2 linked regions of the Homo sapiens genome follow. The protein of the gene in region 1 interacts with the protein of each later gene in a pairwise test. Each region holds a gene or a part of one and is shown on either strand. Other genes may lie near its edges.

The links.
Region 2: the proteins of MTURN (region 1) and RNF216 interact in binary tests that used the Homo sapiens proteins (3 or more experiments, as listed by UniProt).

Annotation. Positions count from the first base shown.
Region 1 is NC_000007.14:30,151,839-30,155,589, reverse strand, and holds part of MTURN (maturin), read right to left. Parts: intron 1-3,751. UniProt on the Homo sapiens protein: Promotes megakaryocyte differentiation by enhancing ERK and JNK signaling as well as up-regulating RUNX1 and FLI1 expression. Represses NF-kappa-B transcriptional activity by inhibiting phosphorylation of RELA at 'Ser-536'.
Region 2 is NC_000007.14:5,621,064-5,624,814, forward strand, and holds part of RNF216 (E3 ubiquitin-protein ligase RNF216), read right to left. Parts: intron 3,063-3,751; coding exon 2,993-3,062; intron 2,117-2,992; coding exon 1,797-2,116; 3' UTR 1-1,796.

The sequences.
Region 1 (3,751 bases):
CGCTCTCAGCTCCCCGGAGAGGGTGCTCCAATCTTGAGTGTGCTTGGGAGAAGAAAGTCTCTTTTTCCGGCTCCTGTCTCCCTTGCAGATTTTAGTAAATGGAATAAAAAACCAAGTTTGCCTCTAAAGAGAGAAAAGATGACTAGTCGTAAGGCACGTCGATGACTACACTTGGTGGTCAATTTTTTATTTGGAGAGCTGCTCGATGACATAGCAAGGTAAAAGTGTCAAATAAGTGGTAACATTTAAATAGCTGGTAAAATATAAATACTATCGCCACCACCAGGAACTCCAAAATTACCTAAACAATATATATAATTGTTCATTGTATTGAAGGGATGTCACTAAAGAGAAATGACCAGTTGGTTCCCTCTCACTTAACAGACCTGACAGGGAGTGGCTGCCTGGAGTTTCAGGATTCTGAGGCCCCGTGGAAAACACTGTGGTCAACTAGCAATGGCTGTCCTGCATGAAAAGGGCGCAGCTGAGGTGTGCATCTGCATATTTGCCATCTTTATCCAAAAGAGATGTACCATGGGCGATTCTGTTCCATAACACCCCTAGGTGATTCATACTGACCCAAACCATAGGTAGCACTCAACACCCTCCCTCTCTTCAGCTTAGGGTACCTTATTGAAAAAGACCCAGGAAACCAAGCACATAGCCATGACCACCTCTCTTCTGCAGTTCCTTTTTCCAGCTCCCTACCTTACCTCAGATGAAACCAGCACATCTACTGACAGGTCCCCAGGCTGGAAGTTTTCTGACTGCTCTTTCAAGAGCTGCTCACTCACTGCCCTTCTGGAAAGGGGAGAGGAGAGGCAGTTCTCTGTGGCCTTCTGGAATTTGGAGGCACCTTAGTGTAGGGTCTACAGATTTATTGAGAGGGTGTGTGGAAAAAGACACTGGCACTAGAGTCCAGAGGCCAGAGCTCTAGTTAGCTGGAGACCTCTGCCAAGTCACCACCTTGCTGACCCTCAATGTCCTTCTCTGTAAAGCGCCATGATACCTGCTCTATCTCACAGAGTAACTATGGAGATGACATGAGAGATTGAAGGCAGCCATGATCTGCAAACTATGGAGCCTTATGTAACTACACGTGATGTGATGTGATGTAATCTAGCTATATTATCTCTAAGGAACTAGGGAAACTGGGAGTGGCCAAGAGAGTCACTCCTTATCTATAAGAAACACGTGAGCCTATGGCCTATCCCAGGGAACATGGGTCGTTATAGGGGATTAAAATCGGCCCTGAGTTCTGGGTTAAATGAATGTTGCCAGGTGGAGGTCATTAGCGGGAGGGTGTTGAGTGAAAATCCTATATACACTGCACACTGATTGCAGGAGGTTGGTTTTCCTGCCCAGCCCACCACCACGGGACCACGTGGTTCTTCTGTCCAGCCTGCCGCCACTGGACTGCATGTAAGGCGATTCTCCTGCCCAGCCCCTGCTGCTGGACTCTCTCCCCTGTATGTCAGTACGGTAAAACCCCGTGTCTCGTTTGCTGGCTCTGGGTCTCTTCTTTGGCCTCTTGAACCTGGTGCCTTCCCTACTGAGGTTAAAGGGGGTTTAGGCCAGGCACGGTGGCTCACATCTGTAATCCCAGCACTTTGGGAGGCCGAGGCAGGCGGATCACTTGAGGACAGGAGTTTGAGACCAGCCTAGCCAACATGGTGAAACACCATCTCTACTAAAAATATGAAAATTAGCTGGGCATGGTGGCGTGTGCCTATAGTCCCAGCTACTTGGGAGGCAGAGGTGAGAGAATCGCTTGAACCAGGAAGACAGAGGTTGCAGTGAGCCAAGATCGTGCCATTGCACTCCAGCCTGGGTGACACAGCAAGACTCCGTCTAAAAAAATAAAATAAAATAAAATAAAAAGGGGGTTTGGCACAGCAAATGCACTGTCTTAAGCAGAATTACACACATTAACTCCTTTGCTCCTCATAATGACCTTGTGTTGGACACTTTTATTGTCCCCCTTTTACAGATAAGACCTGAAGAGGTTGAGTAACTTGCCTAGAGTCACCCAGTAAGTGGCAGAGCCAGGATTCAATTCAAACCTGGGTGATCTGACAGCAGACTTCACACCCCTACCCACCAGGCCACCCAGGAGACTCCCATTCAGCTGTTAATGCTGTTCCTATTAGCTGGAGGTTTCAATGTTTTCCGCTGGGGAATAAATCTTTTTTAAAAATGCAATATGAAATGCTAATGTCTAAATTTGTGAGGAGGGACAATTTGGAAGCATGGATAGAAAGCACCAGAAATAGACTGCCTGGAATTCTAAGGGACATATCTTACAGATATGTAGTAATCTAGCATCCTCACCTCTATGCTTAATCCCACCTATGGTGGGCAAGTCTAAATTTAACTTCTGGATCCCAATTTTCAACAGTCAAGAAGAGACAGGCGTACACACAGACTGGGAAGAATTCTGGAGCCCTGGCTTTTACTGCAACCACACATTCTCATACCAAAAAGGTGGGCCAAAAAACGAAAGTGACTGGTATATTTAAATTATTCCTGACAGTTATAATCATTTATTCCTATTTCAGTGAATTTTTTTTCAGCTGACTGGGAAAATAGTTTATGCTCACTCTGGACAAGAGAGTTAGCATTTCCAGTGTCTCACTGTCCACAAAGCTTCCTGTGAGCTATCGGTGATCACATAAGCACTGCTGGGGCCCATCTATCCAAACAGGTTGCACCAGAAAGGCAGAGCTGCCAACTCTGGAGAATTCAGTTCCTCAGACCCAAGAGAGTATCTGTTATCTGTAGGGCCGACTACAGGTCTTTTGGATAATAGTGTAAACTATGTGAGGCCATATTGAGGTGGCATTTAGCAGCTACTGTCTCTGGAGGGGGCACTCAGCACAGTGGGCTAGAAGGTCTTCATAAAGGAAGGGGAGGTGGTGTCTGTACCCTGGAGAGCACGGCCAATCAACCATGGCTTTTGTGCATCGAGCAAGTGCCCTGTGGCTTCAGAGATCCTTGTATGTACCTTCCAGGGACTCCCCTTAGGCAGTCTCTCTTCTCCTTCACTATGTGTAGGTGTGGATAATGTGCTCAGCAATCTACCTCAAACGCAGATGATGATTCAACAGGTCTCAAGTGGGACCCAATTCTGCATCTCTAACACACTCCCAGGTGATGGGAATACTGTTAGTCCAAGAGCCAGGGGTGGTAGGACTCTAAAGCATTTGGGAAATGTGGCACCATATATCTTCATGATTATGATGCTGGCGGTATGGGGAAACCCCTGGTGGGGTCCTGGTCTGTCAGTCAGTCTTCTTGACCCTAAGGAAAAAAGGGTGGCAAGATGGATGCAGCACAATGGGCAGGAGGAGGCACTCTCTTACCTTTTGAGGCCATCATACTCTCTAAAAAAGAGAATGGTTTGAATGTTCATAACATGAATGAGAAAAAAAAAAAGGAAAAAAGAAAAAAAAGATAAACTGTCAATATTCCATGTTTATTATGAAACCCACATGTGTGCATAATCTTTTCTCATCAGACTTTCCCTGATCCACCCAGGCAGCTTCTGACAGGTGGATTCTTTCTCTTTTCCAGGCTCTTGACCAGACTCCATGAGTAGAGGCAAGAATTGGACTTTTTCTGGGACACAGGATTTTCCTGTGGGATTTAAGCCGCAGCTCTCCAGCCACTTGTGGCAAACTGAAAATATCAATCTTGCTTATGCCAGTGAACCAGAATTAGGGGGATTTTTCTGGCAGAAATGTCTCTTTCT
Region 2 (3,751 bases), about 25 Mb from region 1:
GGCTGCCCCCAAGCCCGGCCTCCCTGCGCACCCTTACCCCAGGTCCAGGTGACCACCTGTCTTCAAAGCCTCCATCCTGGGCAAAGGCAGAAAGAATGGGTATCTTAGTTTTTTTTTTTTTTTTTTTAAAGATAGAGTTTTGCTTTTGTTGCTCAGGCTGGAGTGCAGTGGCACAATCTTGGCTCACTGCAACCTCTGCCTCCCAGGTTCAAGTGATTCTCCTGCCTCAGCCTCCTGAGTACCTGGGATTATAGGCATGCGCCACCTTGTCCGGCTAATTTTGTATTTTTAGTAGAGACGGGGACTCAAACTCCCGACCTCAACTCATCCGCCCGCCTCGGCCTCCCAAAGTGCTGGGATTACAGGCGGGAGCCACCGCGCCGGGCCATCTTAGATCTTAGAGCCCACTTTAGTCCTTGAAATACATCTGAGAAGCCAATGGCAGCGAATGACGGTGCCCGCCTGCCCCAGGCACCTTGGGTGGGCCAGGCCCTGCTTCAGGAGGTGGCGGGCCACTCCGGAGACTGATGCAGCCCCACCCCAATGGTTGTCGGACTCAGCTGTGTCTGAGGTCTGTGAACTCCCAGCCTCTCAGAACCCCATGGCAACACGACAAGGACAAGGCAGGGCATGAGGAGGAGGAGAAAGTGATGCCTGTGGCCAGGAAGGCTTCAGACCTCTCATCTGTCAATGGGCCAGAGTGATGCCTCAGGCACCGCTAGAAACCCAGGGCCGGACAGGAGGCGAGGAGGGTGAGTGGGGACATGGCAGGGCTGAGCTGATGCTCAGCTGACTCCATGAGAAGGGAAGTGACCTTCACATGGGGGATACTGGACAGCACCCTCTACCTGCCTTCAGCAACCACTGAGAACACCCGGGGCACACACGGGGCAGGGGTGGCACCCAGGGTCACCTGTCTCCCTAAGGAGGCCCACTCCTCCCCCAGAAAGCCAGGGGGGAAAAGCTGCTCATCACCCAGGGTGGCAGAAACGTCTCCCCCAGCAGTTGGGCTGCCCAGCAGGGCCACCAGGCCTCTGTCCCAGCTGCCTTAAGAGGCTCTTTCAATGGGCCAGCTTCAGAACCATCCAGTGTACCGCAGCGGCCTGGCCTGGGAAAGGATTTCTCAGCCTGACTTTCCAGAGACCGAGGATGAGAAAGTTAGGCGGCAACAGAACAAAACCCCCGCCGCGAGATGGGTCTGCTGCTGCCTCATCTGAGTAGGTGTAAGAGGGGAGGAGAGGTGCCCTCAACACTCACTGCAGTGGCGCACGGGTTTTGGATGGGGGGACAGCATCTTGGCCCTCACAGCTGTGGCAGTGCCTCTGCGGGCCATGGTCCCAGCCCCCCACCCTGAGCAATGCTTCCCAGGCCCGCAGGTGCAGCCCCCTCTGCCCTTGGCCCAACCGTGGGCCCCTCCAGGGAGATGCTCTCGGCTGCCTTGCTACCCAGGGGTCGGCTCCGAGGAGAGGCCCAGGTGTGAGCAGCAGGGACCTGGTCTATGGCCTATGCCATGGACAAGGCAGAAGGACTGCCGTTGGTGGCCTGGGGGATGCGAGGGGAGGGGCAGTTCACATCGCAGCTCTCTCCGAACTCCACCATTTGGGACGTCTTTATTATGGATCCGTCCACTCTTCCAGGAGCAGTAGCCCTTCTAGGAAAGGGGTGGGAAGAAAACCAGCCTACCCTTCAAGCTGACTTAGGATGCAATGGTACAGACACCAGCCTTGGGGGAGGGTTCTCCATCCACACTCCTACCCCAAACGGGCTTTGTGCTGCTCAATGGGGATTCGGGGCCATCAGAAGCGATGCCGCGGCTGGGGGCCAAAGTGCATGGGCAGGTTGTGCTCCAGGGGCATGTGGATGGGACCGAAGTCATAGTTGACCCGCACGTTGGGCAGAGGGGGCACGTACGGGGCTGGGATAGGCCCCATGTTGAGTGGGAAGTTGTTGAACACAGGCCGCACGGGAGGCAGGGGGAAGGGTGGGTGCGCGAAGGCATAGGGTGGCATCTGTGGCTGTGGCAGGTTCTGCGGAACGGGCCTCGGGAGGGCCTCCACCCTCTGCACCTTCTCCACAGGCTTCTCCAGCGGGGGTCCAATGCGTTTGAAGGTGTTCTCTGAAAGGGATGTGGGGATTAGTGGAGAAAAACATTAAACCAACCTCAATGGAATCTAGCCTGGGACCAGGGCAGCGACCTCTGGACACGGGAGTGGCTCCACATGCTGATCAAAGCACAAAACGTGGACACCTCCCAAATGCCACTGCAAGAAACCAAGAACAAATCTGTACTTCCACCAGTGTCTTGCTCCACAGTGGCACCTTGGAAGGTGGCACGTCCACCCACCCAGCCAGACATCCTTCAGAGCCAGGGCCTTGATGGGCCACCTCAGTGACTCAGTTACTTTTTTTTTTTTTTTTAATAGATGGGGTTTTGCCATGTTGCCCGGGCTGGTCTCAAACTCCTGGGCTCAACTGATCCACCTGCCTCACCCTCCCGAGTGCTGGGATTGCAGATGTGAGCCACTGCACTTAGCCTCTTTTTTTTAAAGAAAAACAGATGGGGTCTTGCTATTTTGCCCAGGCTAGCCCCAACCTCCTGGGATCCAGTGATGCTCCCACCTCTGCCTCCTGAGGAGCTGGGATCGCAGATGTGTGCCAACACACCTGGCTTCACTGCTTTTCAGCCTCAGAAGGATCAGCTGGGTCTACTTTTCTTTAGCCAGGTGTGGCTTGATTGATTCCTGAGCTCAAACCCACCCCTTGGGACTTCCTCACCATCAAGGAGATGCCAAAACTATATTCAAGGCGTTGAAGGCCTTTCCATAAGCCTGAGATGTGGCCGCGTGGGTGAAGTCAGGTCTATAGCCACCTGAGGGACAGCACCCCCTCCTCTCCTGTGCTGGGTTGAGTGCCAGGACACTCAGGGAGGCCAGCAGAAGCCTGCATGGCCTGGCTGCTGCTCTGTCCTGGGGGCCTGGGGAGGGGCACTTGCCTCCATTCTTTCTTTTCTGTTCCTCTTCAGCCTCCTTCTGGATTTCCTCAATAAGCTTCTCATCATCTTCCTAAAACGCAAGCAATGAGAAGGATGAACCTGTAGCTTCATGCAGTGCTGAGGCCCCGTGGGACAGTGAGGAGGCCGCTTGTTGCTTATGGCCATGGAACAAGCCCGAAGCCTGCTGCTGGCCAGTGGGGCCTGGGCTGCACACCGTTCCTTCCTATTTCCCCGAAGGCCTCCTTCCTTCATCAGCCTGATGGCGTTCCACAAGGAGGCCATCCACAAGGCTGGGCAGAGGGGTCTGAGCATGGCAGGCAGCTGCCTGGTGAGGTGGGGGGATGGAGGGCCTCCATGCACTGAGCTGCGTGCAAGTGGTGGATATGAGAAGGGTTTGGAGAGGGCTGGGTCTGAGTGGGCACAGCCTGAAAAGTTTCAGATCCCAAGTCCACAAGCGCTCGGCATGGCAGCCTGTCTGCAGAGCCTGGAAAAGTCTTGCAGATGTCCTCAACTGAGATGGACAAATGTCCAGTCGGGCCCTGCTTAGCCCCCAAGGCTGGCCTTGGCTCCTGGGCCAGGCCTCGGGGAGAGGAGGAAGGTGCGACAGTGAGGATGGTCCCCCTCGGACCTTGCCGTCTCTTCTCCCAAACCCCATGCTTGGTAGGCCTGAAATAACAAACACAATTCACACTTGGGTTATCCAAGCCTCAGACACGAACCGAAGAGGCACTGTGAGTGCAGGCAGATGTGGGAGCTGTG